Homo sapiens: one gene and its partners. The protein of the gene in region 1 interacts with the protein of each later gene in a biochemical or structural test. Each region holds a gene or a part of one and is shown on either strand. Other genes may lie near its edges. The genes, in order: LGALS8, MEFV, ITGB1, TRIM17, TAX1BP1 and TRIM22.

Region 1 (3,886 bases):
CTTTAAATCTGTGTTTGTACTCCAGGCTGTGTACGCCATTTACTGCAACCTTGAATTCTCTAACATCACAATAAATTATCATCTGAAAGGAAAGGATACATGCCATTAGTGGTTCCCCTTAGTTTAAAATTTTGTGTTTGTTACATGCTAACGGTGTCAGAGTAAACCATTTGATTATACATAGAAAAGTTCCAGCCTGCTGCTGCTGACTTCCTTCTGACTTCCAAGACCCTAATCTAACTAAAGTGTCCCTGGTGGTGGCACTGTCTGCCTCATCCCACCCAGGGAAGTGACTCGGACATGTTTGGAGCCTCACACCATCCCCAGGGCCTGCGGCCCTCCTTTCCTCAACACAGCCCCTCTCCCTCGGCCGCATCCTGCCCCTTGCTCCTGGAAAGCCAGAGTGCTGCCCCTCCTCGCCGATGCTGGGGACTCTCCTAAAGCAGGAAAACTCACTCCTAATATGGTTGCTTTAGTTCACCGAGATGCTGTTTCCAGCTGTAGCCTGGAACCAAGGGACTTGGATCCTGACTGACTTTTCTGCCTCAAACTCTAGGACCATGAACAAACCAGACAATTAATATGAAATTTCAGCAGCTTAAGGCACTTGCTAGGGTTTTTACAGCTGCTTGGTGATCCTGATCCTGATAAGCTCAGCACATCTTGGCCTCAGTGTGTTTGTCCAAAGCCGTCAAAGCTGGGTATCCCGTAAGTTGGAAGTGGTGCACATACTACAAATTCAGATCCATCGGCAGTGTTCGCCCTTCACAGTCATCTATGCCCAAAACTCAAACAATGAAAAACCAAAAAACCTACTAGCCTTTTACATCACCTTTACACCTACACTTCATACTTCTGGTGCCACGCTGCCAGTGCCAGGCTGGGTTTCCACCCACTCTGAGAAGGCCACTGGGAGGCCCTGCACTGAGCTCTCCCTGTGCTCCTCGCCCCCATGAAGGCTTCAGAAGAAAGAGGGGCAGCTCAGCCTTGCTGCTAACCCGGCCCCACCCCGAGAGGCCAGAATGAAGCACAAAACCTGAATCTGCAAAGCAGCAAGTTGAGGGTTTCCATTCTTTTGATAGGAGCAGTGGAAAGGACTGTCAAGGAAAATCAGGAAGGGGAGGAAATTTCAGCCCAAGTCCTGCACTCTGATAACAGCTGGCCAAGATGAAGCTTCTGTGGCTACAGAGGATTGGGGAAATAGGTGTAACCTGAGATTCTATCCCCACAAGAATGGTGGGAATCCCAGTTCCAACCAGGTAGAAGGGACCCCAGATATATTTAACAAAATCTCAAGAAAACACAAAACACACAGCCTGATGCTATAGCTCAGAAGGAAAACCAAGTTGGCAGCAGAGGGAGTCAATTAGTTACCTGTACTGTATCAGAGCAAGTGCAAAGCCAGTGAATTACAAGCAAGTGGCAAAGAAATGACATGCTTCCGGGTGAGCAGACTACTGCAAATGAAAAGAAGGCACATCCTTTGCCTAGAAGAAAACAGAACAACAGAATCCCTCACAACCATCTGATGCTGCCGAACAGCTGGAACACGGATTTCATCCAGAGGAAGAGCCCACAGATGAAATTACAACACTGAATGAGATTGTTTTTAAAAAACTGTAGATACAACTAAAGTGTATTTGAAAGAGCAAGAAGATTTAAAATGAAAGTAATGGCATAATGGAAAGACCTGAGATAATCTCAATGCAAGCATATTTAAAAGGCAAGAGATGGAAGCCCCCGGAAAGGACCTATCAGTATAGAAAATCGTCAGCAGTGATCAACACAAGGATAATTACTGCTCCTGAATTAGAAAATTAAATGGAAAAGACGATTGTTCAAAAGCATATAACATTCATCTATTCATTCCTTCAGCCAGCCATCCCTTTCACTGTCTCTGCAAAAAAATGCCTGGAATGTGGTTCACCTAATCCTAATGGTATGGTTTGAATTATGAAGTTGGAGGTATTTTCATCTTAGTATTTTTCAGCATTATTTGAATGTATCATTATTATCCTTTTTTATATTAATATAGCAGATCCAAACTTGGGGCCCAGATAGGTCAAAAACAAGTTACATCATTGGTTTCCTGTCACCCACCACAAGGCTCAACTTCCTTCTAGAGCACTCACCTCTGTTTCCCTCCAGTGAACCCCAAGTCACCCTTTGCGCCTTGACTCTTGCCAAGCTAACAACCCTGTGCTGCCCTTCCCACCTCTAAGGACTTGTTCAAATCATGCCCTAAATCTAGAAAAGCCAACCTTCAGCCTTCCACATCCTTCCCAGCTTTCTGAATTCCAAACCAATATCCACAACTTCAGGGAACCTTCCATGATTAGCCCACATCTGTCTACACTCCACATACCAGGGCACTGCATTAGACTGGAACTTAGGGATAAATATGAATGTCACATTGCTATCTATTCCGCCTGATATTCATGCTTTTAGTAACGAGTTTTGATGAGTCCTCAAGAACCCACATGGTCCAGACAATGTGTCAGTTTAAAATGCTGTAGAATGATAACCTAAACCAATGACCCTAAGTGACTGTGTGAGGCAGTGGCACCTGAGCTGGTGATTGAGGCTGGCCAAACACCCGGCATCCGCATCACAAGGAGACTATTCTCTGCTCAGCATCCCAGAAACATATTTCGGGAAAGGTATGTGTTACAATATTCACCTATCTGGGGACTCAGGACTGCATGCCTTTTAGTTCCAAGGGACTGATGTATTTTTCCTTGAATACATACAAACAAGACTAACTCCTTAGGAGAAAGGACTGCCACCTGAAACCGTCTACCCTGATGGGAGATGATGGCCAGTGCAAGCAAGCAGTTTTAGGGTCTCCACGTCCTCAAGTCTGCTTATATGATTAAATGTGTGACTCCAGTCCTGAGACAAGCTTCCTGGTTAAATTCCTATCAATATGGGGCTACACAGGAATTTTAATATGATGACAAATGTCAATTCCAATGTGCATAATTTGACACTCTACTGGCTTTGCCATTTATACTGATTGCCCACGTTATAAAAAGGGGCAAATTACAATCTCCAAGTAAACAAAAAACATACACAACTTCCACATACTGAGTTAGGACTTGATTTAAATGGACCACTTATCCCACCCCTGCTCCCAGGATTCTTATTGCTGTCCCATTTTCAAAAACTGTAACCTCACCTCAAAGTACATCCCAGGACTAAATGGGAAAGAGGTAATATTTCTCTCTTCTTCTCCCCAGGACTCCTGAAGAAAAGAATTTCTTACAAATGCTTTAATATTCAGGCGTGGGTTCAAGTGTAGAGCAATATCCTTTGATTTTCCTGCTAGTAGGTCAACATTAAAGCTTTTGAGAAAGAAAGAAAAAAAAAAACCTTAATTAACCAAGTAGGACAGAGTAGTGGCAATTTCAGCAATGTTAGTGACCAGACTTGAACTATGATTCTAACTCTATGAAACACACGTATCCACATGGACATGGGAATGCAGGTGAAGTTGAAATTTTAAACCCAGTCAGCATTCCACTAATTCGTTACTTGCAAAATAAAAATACGAAAAAAAAAACCCTTTAAAATCAGCGTTGAGGCTGAGATGTGGTTGGACAGAAATGGAAGGTTTAACGCTAAACTGAATGACTACTTCAGGCTGCAGGAGCCTGGGATCCTCTCAAGCAGGTATTCTCTTTTCATCATCTACCCGTGTTCCTTCCTTCTTGAAAGTATGCCACTTTCTAGGAAATAGCTCTAATTTCAAGCTTTCAGAAGGCTGGACGTCTGTGGAAAAAGTTGTTAAAGCAGAAATTTTCTAAATCACATGACAAGAGGGGCCCTAAAAAATGTTGCCTGGGCTGGGCGTGGTGACTCACACCTGTAATCCCAGCACTGGGAG
Region 2 (4,476 bases), on another chromosome or scaffold:
GAGGAAGTGTTTATAAAGCTAGTGGTGGCTGGTGCCGAGGAAGTGCTGGTGAAGGGTAAATTGCATTATTAACAAAACTTCTGGCCGGGCGCAGTGGCTCACACCTGTAATCCCAGCACTTTGGGAGGCCAAAGCGAGTGGATCGCTTGAGATCAGGAGTTCAAGACCAGCCTGCGCAACATAGTGAGACCCTGTCTCTATAAAAAATACAAAAATTGGCCAGATGTGGTGGAATGCACCTGTAGTCTCAGCTACTTGGGAGGCTGAGGTTGGAGGGTTGCTCAAGCCCAGGAGGCAGAAGTTGCAGTGAGCCAAGATCCCACTACTGCACTCCAGCCTGAGTGACTGAGCAAGACCCTATCTAAAAATAAAAAAATTAGGGTATGCAACGGTCAGAAGTAGGTAAGTGAGGAGTCAGTTCACCCTACATGTAATTTTTCATTTATTTATTTTTTTTGAGACAAAGTCCCGCTCTGTCGCCCAAGCTGGAGTACAATGGCGCAACCTCGGCTCACTGCAACATCTGCCTCCCATGTTCAAGTGATTCTCCTGCCTCAGCCTCCTGAGTAGCTGGGAGTACAGGTGCGTGCCACCATGCCTGGCTAATTTTTGTATTTTTAGTAGAGATGGGGTTTTACTGTGTTGGCCAGGCTGGTCTTGTACTCCCAACCTGAGGTGATCCACCCACCTCGGCCTCCCAAAGTGCTGGGATTACAGGCGTTAGCCACTGTGCCCTGCCCCCAACATGTAACTTCTGTTAGCTTCAAAGCCACCTCTGGGGCCCTGCACCACATATGAGCTGAAGGACACCCGTGCCTTTTCACCCGTGTAGCTCCAGCATCTTGGCACACTGTCTAGAATGTTCAATGAATGTGCACGGAAGAGCATTCTGGCTCCAGGGAGCGAGGACTGAGTCAGCTCTGGGAACAGATGAGTCAGGCTGGTGGTCCAGGCATTGCTTTTCAAGTCCTTCATGTGGCTGGAAGAACCAGTCAACTGGAACCGGATCAACAGGGGTGATGGCATGGCAAGAGTTATCTCCTGGCAGTGCCCTTCTGGCCTCACTTGCCTTCTTGGGCCAGGAAAGGCAAAGCTCACAGGACTGTATTCAGTGCCCACCCCTTCCCCCGTCCTGTGCCATTGGCTCTGGAAGGTCCCTGAAACCCCGAGTCTGGAGGAGAACAGTTGACCAGCAGGGCGGGCCCTCAGCATAGTCCTCTCTGTTCCCACTCACCCGCTCTGCCAGCCCCAGATCCTGGCAGGAAGGAAGATTGGAGGGGGTGTCTGGAATCCAATCCCAGACCTTCCCTTGCAGACTTGCCCATCTGTCTGTGGTCTAGTGTGGAGGCGAGGTCCAGGGTTTGGGAGGGGTGTGGGGGCACATGTCTGCCAAGGCATGGAGCCCTCCCAGCTGGAAAATCCTCTGAACCTGTAAGAAGAGAACACAGCCGGCATGGACACACCCTTACCCTTAGTCTCAGTTCCCACCAAGACACAGAGCATTTCCTGTGCCTTTTCCGCTATTTCACAACCTGCCTTTTCTTGCTCACCAAGGACAGAGGCTTCTTTTCCTACCAGAAGCCAGACAGCTGGCTCGAGCCTCTCCTGCTCAGCACCATGGCTAAGACCCCTAGTGACCATCTGCTGTCCACCCTGGAGGAGCTGGTGCCCTATGACTTCGAGAAGTTCAAGTTCAAGCTGCAGAACACCAGTGTGCAGAAGGAGCACTCCAGGATCCCCCGGAGCCAGATCCAGAGAGCCAGGCCGGTGAAGATGGCCACTCTGCTGGTCACCTACTATGGGGAAGAGTACGCCGTGCAGCTCACCCTGCAGGTCCTGCGGGCCATCAACCAGCGCCTGCTGGCCGAGGAGCTCCACAGGGCAGCCATTCAGGGTAAGCGGGCCCAGGCCTCCTCCTCATCCAGTGCTGAGTGCTGGCTGCTTTGTGGGAAAGGGGACCAGGAGCTCAGAGCAGCTCACTCTGACCTGGGGATTGGGAGTCTCAGGTCTACCAAAATCCAGATGACTTTAGTTCAGGAACGTCCCTTTCTTCACTCTGGCCTTTGGAACTGGGTTAGTAAACTTCCTTCAGGCTCCTAATGGGTTTTTTAAGAAGCAGGTCAGGGTCACGAAAGGCAGGAGCTGGAACACCTGTTCTTTGAGACTTCTTCACTACATTTATGATTAATACTCATGTCAGACAAACATCTCTAGGTTAGCAAAAAGGGATTGCTATGCAATCATATGAACGGGGTTGGTATAGAATCTTCTCAGTGCTGTTCACCATGTTGGCCAGGCTGGTCTCGAACTCCTGACCTCAAGTGATCCTCCCGCCTCAGCCTCCCAAAGTGCTGGGATTTCAGACATAGGCCACCGTGCCCGGCTTATTTTTATTTTTAAAGCGTATAATCTGGGTTTTGCTGACCTGTGTAAGATCTTATTTGAAACAGTTGTCCTGCTTAAAACGTTTGAAAAGTACTATTTGAGAAATATAGGCTAGGCATGGTGGCTCACACTTATAAATAATCTCAGCACTTTGGGAGGCTAAGGTGGGTGGATTGCTAGAGCTCAGGAGTTTGAGACCAGCTTGGGCAACATGGTGAAACCCTGTCTCTACCAAAAATACAAAAAAATGAGCCAGGCGTGGTAGCACACACCTGTATTTTCAGCTATTGAAAAAACAGAAAACAGGCTGAGGTGAGAGGATTGCTTGAGCCTGGGAGGCAGAGGTTGCAGTGAGCTGAGATCACATCAGGGCAACAGAGCAAGATCCTGTCTCAAAAAATAAAATAAGAGAGAGAGAAATACATAGCAACATCAAGCATGTTCTTACTGAATGGTAATTGACTGCCATTGTCTAGTCTAGGAAGTCCTGAACTTTTGTTTTTGAGATGGAGTCTTGCTCTGTCACTCAGGCTGGAGTGCAGTGGCCCGATCTCAGCTCACTGCAACCTCCACATCCCGGGCTCAAGCGATTCTCATGCCTCAGCCTCCCGAGTAGCTGGGACTACAGGTGCGCACCACCGCGTCTGGCTGAGTTTCTTATTTTTAGTAGGAACGGGGTTTTGCCATGTTGGCCAGGCTGGTCTCGAACTCCTGACCTCAAATGATCCTCCCACCTTGGCCTCTGGAGAAGCTGGGATTACAGGCATGCGCCACCACGCTCAGCTTATTTTTGTATTTTTAGTAGAGACGGGGTTTCACCCTGTTGGTCTTGAACTCCTGATCTCAGGTGATCCTCCCGCCTCGGCCTCCCAGAGTGCCGGGAATACAGGCATGAGCCACCGCGCCCGGCCCGTTGTTTTCCTCAATTTCTAAACTTTAATATCCAAGGGGATTCTCTCTCCTCTGCCCTGAATCTTGGGCCCTAAACGTGGGACAGCTTCATCATTTTGCATCTGGTTGTCCTTCCAGAATATTCCACACAAGAAAACGGCACAGATGATTCCGCAGCGTCCAGCTCCCTGGGGGAGAACAAGCCCAGGAGCCTGAAGACTCCAGACCACCCCGAGGGGAACGAGGGGAACGGCCCTCGGCCGTACGGGGGCGGAGCTGCCAGCCTGCGGTGCAGCCAGCCCGAGGCCGGGAGGGGGCTGTCGAGGAAGCCCCTGAGCAAACGCAGAGAGAAGGCCTCGGAGGGCCTGGACGCGCAGGGCAAGCCTCGGACCCGGAGCCCGGCCCTGCCGGGCGGGAGAAGCCCCGGCCCCTGCAGGGCGCTAGAGGGGGGCCAGGCCGAGGTCCGGCTGCGCAGAAACGCCAGCTCCGCGGGGAGGCTGCAGGGGCTGGCGGGGGGCGCCCCGGGGCAGAAGGAGTGCAGGCCCTTCGAAGTGTACCTGCCCTCGGGAAAGATGCGACCTAGAAGCCTTGAGGTCACCATTTCTACAGGGGAGAAGGCGCCCGCAAATCCAGAAATTCTCCTGACTCTAGAGGAAAAGACAGCTGCGAATCTGGACTCGGCAACAGAACCCCGGGCAAGGCCCACTCCGGATGGAGGGGCATCTGCGGACCTGAAGGAAGGCCCTGGAAATCCAGAACATTCGGTCACCGGTAAATTGTGTTCTTTCCTACTTTATATCGGCTGCAGAGAAAGAATGGCTGGCCGGGCACGATAGCTCATGCCTGTAATCCCAGCGCTTTGGGAGGCCAGGGCGGGAGGATTGCTGGAGGCCAAGACTTTGAGACCAGCCTGGTGAATGTAGTGAGACCCCCGCCATCTCTATAAACGAAATTAAAAAAATAAAAACCCAAAGGTTGGGCAGGGCGTGGTAGCTCTCGCCTGTAATCCCAGAGCTTTGAGAGGCCTGCACGGGAGGATCTCTTGACCCCAGGAGTTCCATACTAGCCTAGGCAACACAGTGAGACCCCATCTCTACAAAATACAATAGTGGCACGCGCCTGTAGTCCCAGCTGCTCGGGTTCACTTGAGCAGACGGAGTTCCAGGCTACAGTGAGCTGAGATCATGCCACTGCACACCA
Region 3 (3,886 bases), on another chromosome or scaffold:
CAAAACCTCAAACCCTGAGAAACCCCAAGCCAGTCACCCACAAGCTCTTAGTATTAAACATTAAAATCCAACATAAACACATTCACTATGTAAGGAACCAGGCACTTACATAATAATGGCTCATTGTGTACATATTATTTTCCAGGTGACATTGTCCATCATTTGGTAAAACAATGCCACCAAGTTTCCCATCTCCAGCAAAGTGAAACCCGGCATCTGTGGAAAACACCAGCAGCCGTGTAACATTCCTCCAGCCAATCAGTGACTTGAAAAGAAAAGGATTTCAATTTTAAAACACTATTCACAGTAATTCAACAAAAATCCTTTAATTTTCATATAGGCCACCATTGTATTTTTAACCTAATTCTGTATTTTCTGTGTCTTCTCTTTATACAATGGTAATTATCTTGCTGAGAAACACACAAAGCCCACTGAATGAAGCTCTTCCATCCCATGTACAACGATATCTTGCCTGACCATCCGTATCTCTCAATCTCTCAGTTCTTTTTAAAAACTGTTTTTTTGTTTTGTTTGGTTTGGTTTAGTTCTGCTTATCATCATATCTCCAGCAGCTAGCAAGCCAGCACACTGCTTGGCAAGCAGTAAGCCCTTGATGAGCATTTGCTGAATAAATGAAAGTGTCTGAGCCTATCCTTACTTTACCCCACTGCTGCTGTCTTGTCCCCATCCACCCATCTCTGCTCTATGTTCTATGCCATGCACCTTCTTTATCAGCCCACCATATGAGGCTTCCTTTTTTTATAACAGAAATAAGTATCTTGTTTAAGGATAATTTCACCCATTCTAACTCCTCAATCAGTACTGTTTATGCACTCATTTACTTTATCCTTGCCCTTTCCAATAAAGAATCTAAAGTAACTGTAAAATCTTCTTGTCACTATGGTAATTTATAATTATAAAATCATAGGACTATAGGAATTTACCTGCTTTCGTTAATTTATTTAATACGTCTGTTTAGATCTTCATAAGACAGTAAAATACTTTAAGGTGGGAATCACATTTATTAATACTGGCAATCTTTCAAAAGTGGAATGTCTGATTCTTTTGCATCTAGAGGAGTGGATCAGCATGACCAACACAGAAAAACAGCCACAATCAAGGGTGTTATGGCTTGTTTAATACCACAGGTTAAGGCCTAGTTAGAGGCAGCCCAGAGAATGCCCTCCCCACAACGAGCTGCTAACAGGCTCACACATCAATGGCTAGTAAGAAAAGAGGTGTAAGGCTAGGTACTACCTGGAATGCTACTTGCTTCGGCTATAACAGCAGGGACTAACCTTAAATTGCAAACACTCTAGTGAAAAGTCGAAAGTAATAACAATATAGGAATTAGTATTTGCTGAATGCTCATTGGTACTTTATAGAGATTGATGCATTTTAACTTCACAAGAGCCCTATGAGGTAGATACTATCATGATCCCTTCTTAAAGAGAAGAAAACAGCCCTGGAGAGGCTGAGTAAATTGCCCAGCATCAGTGGTGATAGAAAAATTCTTAATTACTATCCATATTCCTTCACTTATTATTTTGGGCATCAATTAGCACCTTAGCAAAAATTGACTGAAAAATAACCACTAAGAGGCCTCTAAAATCAAAGAAGGTCATCTAGAGAATGGGGGCACTGGAGGGAACAAAAATGAGACAAGAGTAGGTACGCAGGACAAACTTGACATGACAATGTCTTCTAGTTTCAGCCTCAGCCACATCATTAAAGTGTCATCTCAAAATACATAGCTGCTACATGGATCATAAAATACAAATTATTGAACCAATAGGGATGGGCTTGCTACTGAAAATCTTACAATTAAAATTACAAATATTGTATCACTTCTCAAAATACATCTATTCATATAGGTTAAAAACTAGAGCTTAAAAAGTTCTCTCTTTTTGAATTACTAAGACACAGGAGAAAGATGTGTCTTTCAAAGACAGTGAGAAGAAAACTGACCAAAGGAAAATGATACAAGACACTCTCCCTTTGAGCAATTTCAAGGTTCCTGGTGATGCCTCAGATAATAACATCAATTCTATCTCTAGTACAAAGCCAGAAAGTTAGGACACATGGGCTTTTCTAAAATCCAGACCACCAGCTACAGTACAGAGAGGTTGCCCCGCTGTTTCAAATGGTTAGCATTCTGTCTTTTAAAAGCCCGCATGAATAAACTAACTGTGTGGTTTGCATAAAGATTAAATATGCTTTTATAAAGGCACTTTATGTATACAGGCAATTTAAGGGTTTACTTAAAATTACTTCTCTAAGATAATCAAATCTATGAAAATTAAGGTCAATTTTTCTATTATCATAGTAAAATCACACTTAAAATTCACACACATAATAGAAACAATATCCCCTGATAGGAAATGAATGCGCTTACTCCACAAACTGCAACTTGCATGATGGCATCGAAACCACCTTCTGGAGAATCCAAATTTCCAGATATGCGCTGTTTTCCAACAAGTTCATTAAATACTTCTCCTTTATTAGTAAGACTGAGCACATTTTTGTAGCTAAATGGGCTGGTGCAGTTCTGTTCACTTGTGCAAGGGTTCCTGAGCTTAGCTGGTGTTGTGCTAATGTAAGGCATCACAGTCTTTTCCACAAATGAGCCAAATCCTGCCAAGAAAAAAATGGTACATAAATGAATGAATGGATGGATAGATGGAAAGACAGAGATTTGCATTGTTTAAAAAATTCATCTATGTTACCAAATGTAGGTTACTATGGACTGAATGTCTGTGTTACCCCAAAATTCCTACATTGAAAACCTAATTCCCAACATGATGGTATTAGGAAGTGGTTCCTTTGGAAGGTGATTAGATCATGAGGGCAGAGCCCTCATGAATGGGATTAGTAACTGATACAGTTTGGGTATCTGTCCCCGCCCAAGTCTCATGTTAAAATGTGATCCCCAATGTTGAAGGTACGGCCTGGTGGAAGGTATTTCGATCATGGGGGCAGATCAATCCCTCATGGCTTGGTGCTATTCTGACCACAGTGAGTGAGTTCTCATGAGATCTGTTATTTAAAATTGTGTGGCATCTCTCCCCAACTCTTGCTCCTGCTCCCACCATGTGAGAAGCCTGCTCCCCACTTTGCCTTCTGCCACGATTGGAAGCTTCCTGAGGCCTCCCCAGAGGCCTTGCTGATGCTAGCGCCATGCTTCCTGTAGAGCTTGCAGGACCGTAAACCAATTAAACCTCTTTTCTTCATAAATTACCCAGTGTCAGATATGTCTTTATAGCAACGTAAGAATAGACTCCTACAGTGACCTCATCAAAGAAGCCCCAGAGAGCTGCTGTCTCCCTGCTGCTATGTGAGTACATCGCAAGAAGGTATCATCTATGAACCCAGAAGAGGGACCTCACCAGATGCTCAATCTGCCTGGATCTTGGACTTCTCACCTCCAGAGCTGTGAGAAATAAATTTCTGTTGTTCATAAGCCACCCAGTTTATAGTATTTTCTTAAAGCAGCACAAATGGACTAAGACCTAAGACAATCTTTTTATTTTGCCTCCCTACTTTAAAAATAACTCACATTCATTTTCTTGGCACACCAGCTCTCAATAATGACATGCTGAACAAATGAATAAACAAATATTCTAGAATTCTGGCCATTTTAAAAAACACTAATTTGATAGGAGCTCCCTAATGCCATGGTCCTTGAATTATGCTTACAGAATAAAAGAACATTTTAAGCAAGTGCTATTTTTAAATGTTTCCACTAAAATAGGGCTAATTTTTGAAAGGCAGCTCTTAGGCCTCATAACTGTCAAATCTTTCTAATATTCTGTTGCTAAACCTCTAGAGCAACAGGAGTGGAGAGAAGCAGGCAAAAAAGAGGTTAAGCTGGGGATGCATGAAATGG
Region 4 (3,599 bases), 8.1 Mb from region 1:
ATTTTTAAGTTTTTGTAGAGATGGCGTCTTATCAGCCGTAATCAAGCCCCCTCTCCAGGGCCATGGCACACAGGCTGGTCCCGGCAGACAGGCTGGCTGCTTCACCTCCCCACTGCCGTTGCCACACAACTCACTCCTGGGACAGTGCACCTCCTCCACACCGAGACATGGAGTCCCTGTCCCAAAGCCACACCTGGCTGCCAGGTGTCCCAAGCCACCTCTCTGGACTTGGAAGGAAATGGGGACACTGTCTCAGGTTGGAACCTGTAAGGGGCTGACTTGTGTCCCCACTAATTCACAGGTTGAAGCCTGAACCCTCAGGACCTCAGAATGTGACTGTGTTTGGAGATAGCATCTTTAAGGAGGGAGTTGAGGTCACTGGGGTGGGCCCTAATCCAGTCTGACTGGTGTCTTTATACAAGGAGATGATTAGGACAGAGACGTGCATAGAGAGATGATGCCATGAGGACGCGGGGAGGAGACGGCATCTTCAGGCCTAGGAGAGAGGCTCAGGAGGAACCAGGCCTGCCCGCACCTTGGCCTCAGCCACCCAGCCTCCAGGACTAGCAGACTGGGAGCTAACAGCCCTTTCCCGTTGGCTGCCTCTTCCCCAAGCCCAGCGCCCCCTGCCCATGCCTGTCAGAGCTCACATCCCACCCTGCCTGCCAAGCCTACTGGCTCACCTGCAGCATCTGGAGGGGCCCCTGTGTGCTCCGCTCCTCCAGCTGCAGCAGCAGCAGCTCCAGAGAGTGACCCTGCCGGTCCAGGCAGGCCACGCTCTCCCGGAGCCTGCTGGCAGTCTCCTCTTCTTCCGTCTCCAGAGCCTGGAGGAGCCTCTGCTCTTCTTCCACCAGGTAGAGGTTCATCTTCTCAAACTCCAGCACAATGCGTTCTCTCCGCTCCTTCACCTTGCCCTGCAGGAGTGGAGAAGCCCAGCATGTTGCCAGCAGGTGGCTCAGCTCCAGGGATGCTGGCACCTCTCCCCAGGGCCCTGGTGACCCACAAGATCACCAGCAACTGGAGCTTTAGTTGGGGACCAGGAACTGTGACAGAGGCCCCCACCTCTGCCATCCTGTGATACACTGAGTGTAACCCTCCGAGCCCCGAACTGCAACTTCTACACATCCAAACACCCATGCACCCTTGCTCTGAGGAGGTTCAGAATGTCCACCCCCAGATAAGCCTCTTGGGCATGTTAAACAAAATTTATGGGTGGCCATTGTTTTTTGTTTTGTTTTGTTTGAGACAGGGTCTCGCTCAGTTGCCCAGGCTGGAATGCAGTGGCACTTATTGCAACCTTGACCTCCTGGGCTCAAGTCATCTGAGTAGCTGGGACCACAGGCATGCACCACCACATCCAGCTAGTTTTTAAATTTTGTGTAGGGACAGGGTCTTGCTCTGTTGCCCAGGCTGGAGTGCAATGGCACAACCACAACTCACTGCAACTTTGACCTCCTGGCCTCAAGTGACCCTCCCACCTCAGCCTTCCAAGGAAGTGGGACGACAGACATGTGTCACCACCACCATGCCCAGCTAATTTTTAATTTTTTTGTAGAGACAGGGTCTTGCTATGTTGCCCAGGCTGGGGTTCAGTGGCATGATCATGGTTCACTGCTGTCTCAGACTCCTGGGCTCAGGTGATCCTCAGGGGCCACTGTTTTGAACTGGGCTCCTGCGCTGGGTCCTAGAAGACCAGACCCAACCAGAATGGAGTCACTGGTGCTAATGAAACCAAGGGGTTCACTGATCAGGTCAGCCTGCCCTGATTGCTTTTTGTTATTTTGTTTTTCCTTTTTCCATGAAGCTGAAGGCTGTGCCTCTGAATGCTGACGCCCACCCTTCACTGGCTCTTTATAGATAATATTCACAGGTCACCATGGGACTGGTCGCTTCAGGAATGTGGGGCAGCTCCTGTCCAGCTGAAACCAGTTGAGACCATCTGCCCTTCAAGTGGACCTGTCCCAGTGCCCGAGGTGGCCTTTTGATGTGAGAGGGCCAAAACTTCCAACCTCAGATCATGCTAAGGCTGCCGTTTCTGGTACCTGTGTCCTGTGAAATGCCATGCACCCCGACGACACCTGCACAGAATGGGCCTGCTGGACCACCCTGCCTCCGTAGTTCATAAAGACTCCCAAGCTGTATCACTTGGGAGGCAGGTTTAAGAGCTGTTCTCCCTCCTCTTCACTCAGTGGCCTTGCAAATAAATCTTTTCTCTTAGCTGGGTGCAGTGGCTAACGCCTGTAATCCCAGTGCTTTGGGAGGCTGAGGCGGGAAGATAGTTTGAGCTCAGGAGTTCAAGGCCAGCCTGGGCAATAGCAAGACCTTGTCTCTACAAAAAAAAAAAAAAAAAAAAAAAAAAAAGCTGGTCTTGGTGGCAAGTGCCTGTAGTCCCAGCTACTCAGGAGGTTGAAGCAGGAGGATCACTTGAGTCCAGGAATTTGAGGCTGCAGTGAGCTATGATTGCATCACTGTGCTCCAGCCTGGGCCACAGAGCGACTCTGACTCAAGAAAAAAACAAAAAATAACAACAAAGATCTCTAAATCTGTTTTAATTTTGTGTTTTGACAGGCATTAGGATTAAGGTTAACTAAAGGCCATTGAGAACCCGCAGAAGCAGGAAAACCTGTTTGCCTCCCCCATTAGCTGCCTAAAAAAATAAAGTGCCTGGCCTGGCGCGATGACTTATGCCTGTAATCCCAGCACTTTGGGAGGCCGAGGCAGGCAGATCACCTGAGGTCAGGAGTTCAAGACCAGCCTGACCAACATGGTGAAACCCCATCTCTACTAAAAGTACAAAAGTTAGTCGGGCATGGTGGTGGGCACCTATAGTCCCAGCTGCTTGGGAGGCTGAGGCAGAAGAATTGCTTGAACCCGGGAGGCAGAGGTTGCAGTGAACTGACACCGCACCATTGGATTCCAGCCTGGGCAACAAGAGTGAAACTCCATCTCAAAAAAAAAAAAAAAAAAAATTAAAAAGTGCCCTTTCATGAAGGAATTTCCAGTGGTCAAGGCATCTATACCAGAAAGAGAGTTCCAAAAACAACTCTTCACCTGAGACACTTGTTTAAATACTTAACCAACATCACCTGCCTCCCCAGCCCAGAGGCCCCCAAGCCCTATTCCTTTGTGGTGCTGACCTACGCCCCTGCCCTCTGGCTGCCTCCTTTGTGGTATTGAGCCCCCACCTTCTGGCTGCCTCCTTTGTGGTACTGAGCCCCCGCCCTCTGGCTGCCTCCTTTGTGGTACTGAGCCCCTACCCTCTGGCTGCCTCTTTGAGTCTGATTTTTGAGGCCCCTTCTCTCCACCCTATGTGTGCATCTGTAATTTAAAATTGCCTTTTTATCTTTTTCTCTGCTGTTCATCTGTCTTAAGTCAGTTTCATTCTGAGGCCAGCCACAGAACCTAGAAGGGTAGAGGCAACTTTCTTCTTTTCCTGCCACTGCGGCAGCATATCCCCACGGGCAGACACAGACGTGGAAATGCAGGAAGATGGAGCAGCAGCAGGAAAGGGACTGGACAGCCCTGGGCACCCACCTGCCACTCGGCTAAGCTCTGCTCCTCCCTGGCCTGCAGATTCCCTGTCCTGGTGATCTGCTCCC
Region 5 (3,886 bases), on another chromosome or scaffold:
TTTTTCCTCAGTCACATTTCTGTTTTCTTCCTCTCTGCTCTGTTACTACAGAAAACATCAGTTCTCAATCAGTATCTTTAACTTGATACCAGTATCTCCCATAAAATCGAAACTACTACTGAGGCCAGGTGCGGTGGCTCACACCTGTAATCCCAGCACTTTGGGAGGCTGGGACAGGAGGATCACTTAAGCCTAGGAAGTTAAAACCAGCCTAGGCAACATAGTGAGACCCTGTCTCTACAAAAAATTTTAAAAATTAGCCAGGCGTGGTGTTGTGTCTATAATCCCAGCTATTTGGAAGGCTGCGGGGAAAGGATCACTTGAGCCCAGGAGGTCAGGTTGCAGTAAGCCACTATCCCACCACTGCACTCCAGCCTGAGTGATAGAATAAGACCCTGTCTCAAAAAATAAGAAATAAAATTTAAAAACTACTCCTAATTTCATAAAATTGTTACAATGAATGTTTCTCCATTTTGGGATTTGACAAGCCTAAAAAACTGACACAAAAAGTAAACAGTAAATAACTATTGTGTTGTATTCAGAAACATCAAGAAATGAGGAATTCAAAGAAAGGAACTAAGTCATTAAATGCCAAAATTGTTTTGTCCAAATGTTTTTCTGCCTTCCCGTCAGGCTGGACTTTTACTTCTAGACACTTTCAATGTGCCTAATTTCTAGCAGCTATTCATTTCTTTCTTCCTTGTTGTTTAACTTTATACAGATTAGACAATCAAAATTTCAAGCCCATAAAAATCTTAACTAAAATAAAACAAACTGATTCTGAGGAAGACTACAGAATAACACAGGAGAAAAGTGAATGTGTTTTACTGTTTGGACATTCGTGACATTATTTTGACTGCTCAGAGGACATTCTTATGTTTTGGTTTTCCACTACATTTTGAAGAGTTAAAATTGCCAGAAAAAGTCCTGCACAGTGAGGTGTACCACTGTAATGATCACCTTCATTTTCAAGAAAGTATTATACAAAATCACTGGTAAAATATAAGAACTAGAACTCCTGCCATCAAAGAGTTTACTATTCAGTCATGTTAAACAGAATACTTTAAAACTGTGTAATACAAACAGAATACTCTTAAAACTGTGTAATACAATCTGAGCAATATTTAAGCCATGCAGGACAGTAGAAGGGATAATAACATGGCTGTCAAGCTGTATAAAATTAATTTCAAATGACTGGAAAAAATGGTAAATAATATAAGAACCCAAAGAAAAAGATCTTTTTTTATTGCAGGTAATGAATGGAGAAAATAGGAAAAGAAGATTCTGAAAAAATTTTCACAAGTCCTTAAGTGAAGGTAAACTTTCTGATCAGGGAGAGGAAAATCTGGTGAAATGGAGTTCCCAACATCCATTTTATCTACTCCCCACTGTTAAATATTTCATGGTGATGTTTACAAAAATGAGTCTTAATGCAGAGTTAAGGCAAGTAAAAGCTACTTATCAATCTGTTTTAAAAGAAAATTTTAAGTGTTTACATGGAGAACATATTCAGAAAGCTTTCTTACCTTGAATATACCAACCCAATCTTTTGGATGTGGATGAATATATGGAGTTAAGGTGTAATGACATTCCAGGTGTGCATTAGGAAGGTAACTCTTGGCCACATTTTGAAAGATGACATGGGCAAAGTTGGAAGTCTGCAATGGGACTTCTTGAAAGGATGTCATTGTGAATCTGAAACAAGTAATTCATACAAGTTAAATTATACCAACTAAGAATAAACTTATGCCTTCAGAAAATACATAATATTTAATATAAGTTTCATGAATATTTGCATGTCATAATTAAGAAAATATATACTTTGTAAATACTGGAACTTCTTAAAAATTGATTAAATATAAAAATACAGACAAACTGGAAAAATAACTAAAACCCATTTGGCTCAGAAAGTTATATGGGCATTTAAAAGTTAAAAAACCAAAACCAAAAATTAACTCTCCTGGAAAGCCTAGCCCTCTGCTTCTATTTAAATCAAAAGCAAATGAACCAGAGGTGTTTTTGTGCACACGCTGCCAATATAAACCTGCTGGCTCCTAGTAACAAACACTAAGAAACAGAAACAAGAACAGTTAAAAGTCAGTATTTTACTGGCTATGGGTCAATTAACATTTCCTTCCTATGTAGAACCCTTGGGCTTCATCATTCTCCTCCCTAACCTAGCCCATCCCATTCATCTCTTCCCCTCTCCCTAGGTTTTGGGGTCCTATAACTAAACCTGACGCTAACATCTCTGTGCCTACATTCCTGCCCTTCTAATCCCCTGGACCAGCATTTCTCAACCCTGGTTACACATTAGAATCATTAGGGGCCTTTAAAAAAAAAAAATAGATGACAACAACTTTCTGGGATTGGGGCCTGGGAGTGTGTGCATGTGTGTCTGTGGGTGTGTATACGAATATACATAGCCCTGCCCCTACATCGCCCCAAGTAATCTCAATCCTGTATGCAACCAGAAAAGAGAACCACTATCCAACAACTTCTACCTCTCACTCATTTCCACAGATCCCAGACCCAGCCTGTCTTCTTGGGCTTCTGTTACAAGCTTGTTCAAATCTCTCAAACCATGTAAAATCTTAGCTGGTCTACTTGAAATGGCTCAGCCTATTTGTTCTTCTCCACCTATAACAAACCTATCATTTCATCATAGGTCCAATCAATGATCCTACCTCAACTTCTAGTATTCACGTACCCTTTCCACATGTTTACTGATTAAAATAAACTTATATTTAAAAATAAAAATAAAAGTGTAGTGTTAATAAAATACACACTGTTGAAAATCTCTTAGAGATTCATGAACGCTCACTGGCTTAGTAAACACCAAGCACTGGATAGCAGATGAATGGTGAAAGCAGATTATAAAAACTGCAAGATCCAAATGTTTTCCCTATTTTGTGCTCTACTTTTGAGAAAACAGAAACAAATGAGGATTTACCCAAAAAAGCAATCTGTAGAGTTTGTCACAGGCTCCGTACAATCACTAATTCTACAATACACATAAGAAACTATGACTGTCCTGACTGCACTTGCTTGAGTCATTAAAACAGGCATCTCTGTAATAATGGGGAAAACTGGGGCAAGGTTTTTGCTAACCAAATTAATCTAATTTACTTCACAAATCAATGAAGTTTCTACAGAGCAAGCACAGCAGTAAGGCTCTACTCATATTTTAGCCATTAGTAAGAAGGCTTATTGCTAAGATCTAAAACAGTGTGCTTTTACAACTGTTTCTTTTGCTGACCTGTTTGAAATACTAAGGCAAATTTTTAAAGTTTTGTAATAATAAGCACTTTAAAAAATATCAACTTTCTTCTTGTGTCCCCTCTGCTTCTGTTATGGCCAAAGTCCTGCTTTACTGAATATAATGGATATCCCAAAAAGAGACTGTCAATCATGAACCTGGAAACCACTGTAGAGTATCAGGCTAGTTGTCAGCCTCTCCCTACCTGAGGTTTGCAAGCATTCCAAGATAAAGAGTATATTCAGTAGCAATCCCCCTTTACCTCTGCACTAATAAAGGGACTTTGCTACCAGCAACCATATTTCATGGAAAGACTTAACTATGAATACTCTCTACCTGGTAACCTAAAGCCATCAGAAAAATGAACAGGTAGCATTTACAAACACTGGAGAACTCTGCCTAAAATAACTGAAGAGTTTTATTATTTTGTTTCTTTGAGTTGTCTGAGCTAATTTGGGCTCCCAGGGAGGTCATGATACTAATGAAGTCATTAATGATTATCTCAAGTCACTGGCTTCACAAAGGAAAAAAAAAAAAACACCAATTCCAGTTCTTTAAAAAAAAAAGAAAAAAAAAAAACTCACTACTGGTTACAAGACACCAACAAAAGAAACTATAGCTAAATCA
Region 6 (2,673 bases), on another chromosome or scaffold:
AAGGGTTGAGGAAGAAGATATTTGCTTCTTTTCCTGCCGCAGTACTTGAGCTGAGACATGTCACCTCATCTTTTTCTGCCTTTGTACTGGCATTTATACCATCAGCTCCCTGGTTCTTAGGGCTTCAGAGACACACTGACTTATATCACCAGCTTTTGGGTCTCTGGTTTCCAAATGGCAGATAATGGGAAGTCTTAGCCTCCATAATCAAGTAAGCCAATTCCTCATAATAAATACATATCTCTTATTGTTCTGTTTCTCTGGAGAACCCCGACTAATACAATATATTTCTTCAAGAATGTTTTGTGTCTTTGCTATCCTAGGTAGTTCTACTACTCATCCTGTGTTTGAAAAAAGACTTAAAAAAAAAAAAAAAGAAAAGTACCTAGGATGGTAAATGCAATGGTACACACAAGTGTTTCATTACGAGAAACAGATCTGAACAGCATAAGGCTGTCTCTTATCAAGGACAGCTGAGCCTAGACATGACCTTCTTTACTGGACATATGGAAACTCATATTATCTGCAGCAAGATTTTGGAAACTGAAGAATGAGACTTCAGTAGAGCCAGCTATTGTTTTATTGAAGCAAAAAGAAAACAGAACAAAAACAAAAAATTGTTTCCCAAGACATTGAAATGGCTGACATCTTTTCAGTAATAATCAGAACAATATTTATTTTTATATTTAAAATTCATAGAAAAGTGCCTTACATTTAATAAAAGTTTGTTTCTCAAAGTGATCAGAGGAATTAGATATAGTCTTGAACACCAATATTAATTTGAGGAAAATACACCAAAATACATTAAGTAAATTATTTAAGATCATAGAGCTTGTAAGTGAAAAGATAAAATTTGACCTCAGAAACTCTGAGCATTAAAAATCCACTATTAGCAAATAAATTACTATGGACTTCTTGCTTTAATTTTGTGATGAATATGGGGTGTCACTGGTAAACCAACACATTCTGAAGGATACATTACTTAGTGATAGATTCTTATGTACTTTGCTAGATAACGTGGATATGAGTTGACAAGTTTCTCTTTCTTCAATCTTTTAAGGGGCAGAGGAAATGAGGAAGAAAAGAAAAGGAATTACAGCAATACTGTTCTTTCTATAGGAAGGATTAGATATGTTTCCTTTGCAAATATAAAAAAAATAATAATGTTTACTACTAGTGAAACCAAGGTATTAGGAAAATAATGTACAAGCATCTCTTGCAAGAAAGGGTAAGATTGTTATGAGTGAAATCGTGCCTTCCTCAAATTTATATGTTGGAGTTTTTATTCCCAATACCTCCAAATATTATCTTATTTGGAAATAAGGTCTTTGTAGAGAATATAATGTTAAAATGATTTCATTAAGGCATTAGCGGTGGGCCCTGAGCCAGTATGACTGGTGTCTTAATAAAAAGGGAAAACTTGGGCACAGAGATGTACATAAAGACAATGTGAAGAGTCATAGGGACAAGATGCCTTCTACAAGCCAAGGAGAGAGGCATGGAACAGAGCCCTTCCTTGCAGACCTCAGAAAGAACCAACTCTGCTGGAATCTAGATTTGGGATTTCCAGCCCACAGTACGGCAATACAATTACAGTTTAAATCAGCAATCTATGATGCTTTGCTATGGAAGCCCTAGCAAATGAATACAAAGACATTCTAAGTAAAAGAAGGGGAAAGAAAGGAAGAGATGGTCTCAGTAGAGATGAACTCAGGTGCAGAATCTGAGTCTCAGCACAAGGGCTACTATGCAGAAGTGGGTAAAGGAATGAGAACACTCAGGAGCTCGGTGGGCACACAGTCATGGGGACTAGGCAGTTCCAAGGATTGAAATACGGATAAGCAGGTCGAGAAAAGCGACATCCAGAGAACTTGTAGATGAGTGCTCCGTGGTTTGTGACATTGAAAAATGAGACAATGCCTGCCTCATAGTCTAGGAAAACCCCAATACGACAGGGAGGCACAGCCATAAAGAGAGTCAAAACCTTGGGATCAGAAGAGGAGGAGTCCTCAAAAGCATTATATTCACATGTATTCTGTAATCCTATAACCCAGTAGCCATATTGAGGTCTATATCTGGAGTAAACTTTTGAATAATTTACACTTGGATCAAAAGCAAACCCAGAGCTCTTCCTTTTATTCAGACTACTTATTTTACTGTGTACGCCCAGGATCCAGGCAATCTTTCCAGACACATCTACTTCCCAGTAATATTTCCCCGAAGAGAAATATTGGCAGCCGAAGACACCAAAAGCAGAAAAATCACATGGATTTGAATTCTTAAATGTGCAGGTGCGTACAGTTTTCACTTGTCTCTGATCCACAGAAATAGCAACATTCGAAGTGGCACTGCCTGGATTCAGCATCACGTCCACTGTAGAAAAAATTACCAAGTCAAGTGAAGGATATGGGATAGGTGTGTCTTACAGCATTGAGAAGAGACATATTGAAAATGAAACTTGTGTCGATATCAAACGGAACTTGTGTTGATAGTCAGAGGTTAGTAGGACCCTTAAGAAATACAGGGTGTAAGACTATAAAAATTAGCCAAGCGTGGTGGCACACGCCTGTAATCCCAGCTACTTGGGAGGCTGAGGCAGCAGAATCGCTTGAACCCAGGAGGCAGAGGTTGCAGTGAGCCGAGACCGCGCCATTGCACTCCAGCCTGGGCAAC

Evidence for each region.
Region 2: the proteins of LGALS8 (region 1) and MEFV form a complex in vitro, tested with the Homo sapiens proteins (one study listed by BioGRID).
Region 3: the proteins of LGALS8 (region 1) and ITGB1 form a complex in vitro, tested with the Homo sapiens proteins (one study listed by BioGRID).
Region 4: the proteins of LGALS8 (region 1) and TRIM17 form a complex in vitro, tested with the Homo sapiens proteins (one study listed by BioGRID).
Region 5: the proteins of LGALS8 (region 1) and TAX1BP1 form a complex in vitro, tested with the Homo sapiens proteins (one study listed by BioGRID).
Region 6: the proteins of LGALS8 (region 1) and TRIM22 form a complex in vitro, tested with the Homo sapiens proteins (one study listed by BioGRID).

What each region holds. Positions count from the first base shown.
Region 1 is NC_000001.11:236,544,208-236,548,093, reverse strand, and holds part of LGALS8 (galectin-8), read right to left. Parts: intron 3,345-3,886; coding exon 3,179-3,344; intron 2,933-3,178; coding exon of another isoform or gene 2,873-2,932; exon of another isoform or gene 133-2,872; intron 83-132; coding exon 1-82.
Region 2 is NC_000016.10:3,253,729-3,258,204, reverse strand, and holds the start of MEFV (pyrin), read left to right. Parts: upstream 1-1,571; 5' UTR 1,572-1,617; coding exon 1,618-1,894; intron 1,895-3,414; coding exon 3,415-4,047; intron 4,048-4,476. UniProt on the Homo sapiens protein: Involved in the regulation of innate immunity and the inflammatory response in response to IFNG/IFN-gamma.
Region 3 is NC_000010.11:32,923,476-32,927,361, forward strand, and holds part of ITGB1 (integrin beta-1 isoform 1A precursor), read right to left. Parts: intron 2,635-3,886; coding exon 2,396-2,634; intron 266-2,395; coding exon 110-265; intron 1-109.
Region 4 is NC_000001.11:228,410,263-228,413,861, forward strand, and holds part of TRIM17 (E3 ubiquitin-protein ligase TRIM17), read right to left. Parts: coding exon 3,535-3,599; intron 2,996-3,534; exon of another isoform or gene 915-2,995; coding exon 684-914; exon of another isoform or gene 423-683; intron 1-422. UniProt on the Homo sapiens protein: E3 ubiquitin ligase that plays important roles in the regulation of neuronal apoptosis, selective autophagy or cell proliferation.
Region 5 is NC_000007.14:27,746,327-27,750,212, reverse strand, and holds part of TAX1BP1 (tax1-binding protein 1), read right to left. Parts: intron 1,696-3,886; 5' UTR 1,689-1,695; coding exon 1,527-1,688; intron 1-1,526.
Region 6 is NC_000011.10:5,708,753-5,711,425, reverse strand, and holds the end of TRIM22 (E3 ubiquitin-protein ligase TRIM22), read right to left. Parts: intron 2,374-2,673; coding exon 1,778-2,373; 3' UTR 563-1,777; downstream 1-562. UniProt on the Homo sapiens protein: Interferon-induced E3 ubiquitin ligase that plays important roles in innate and adaptive immunity.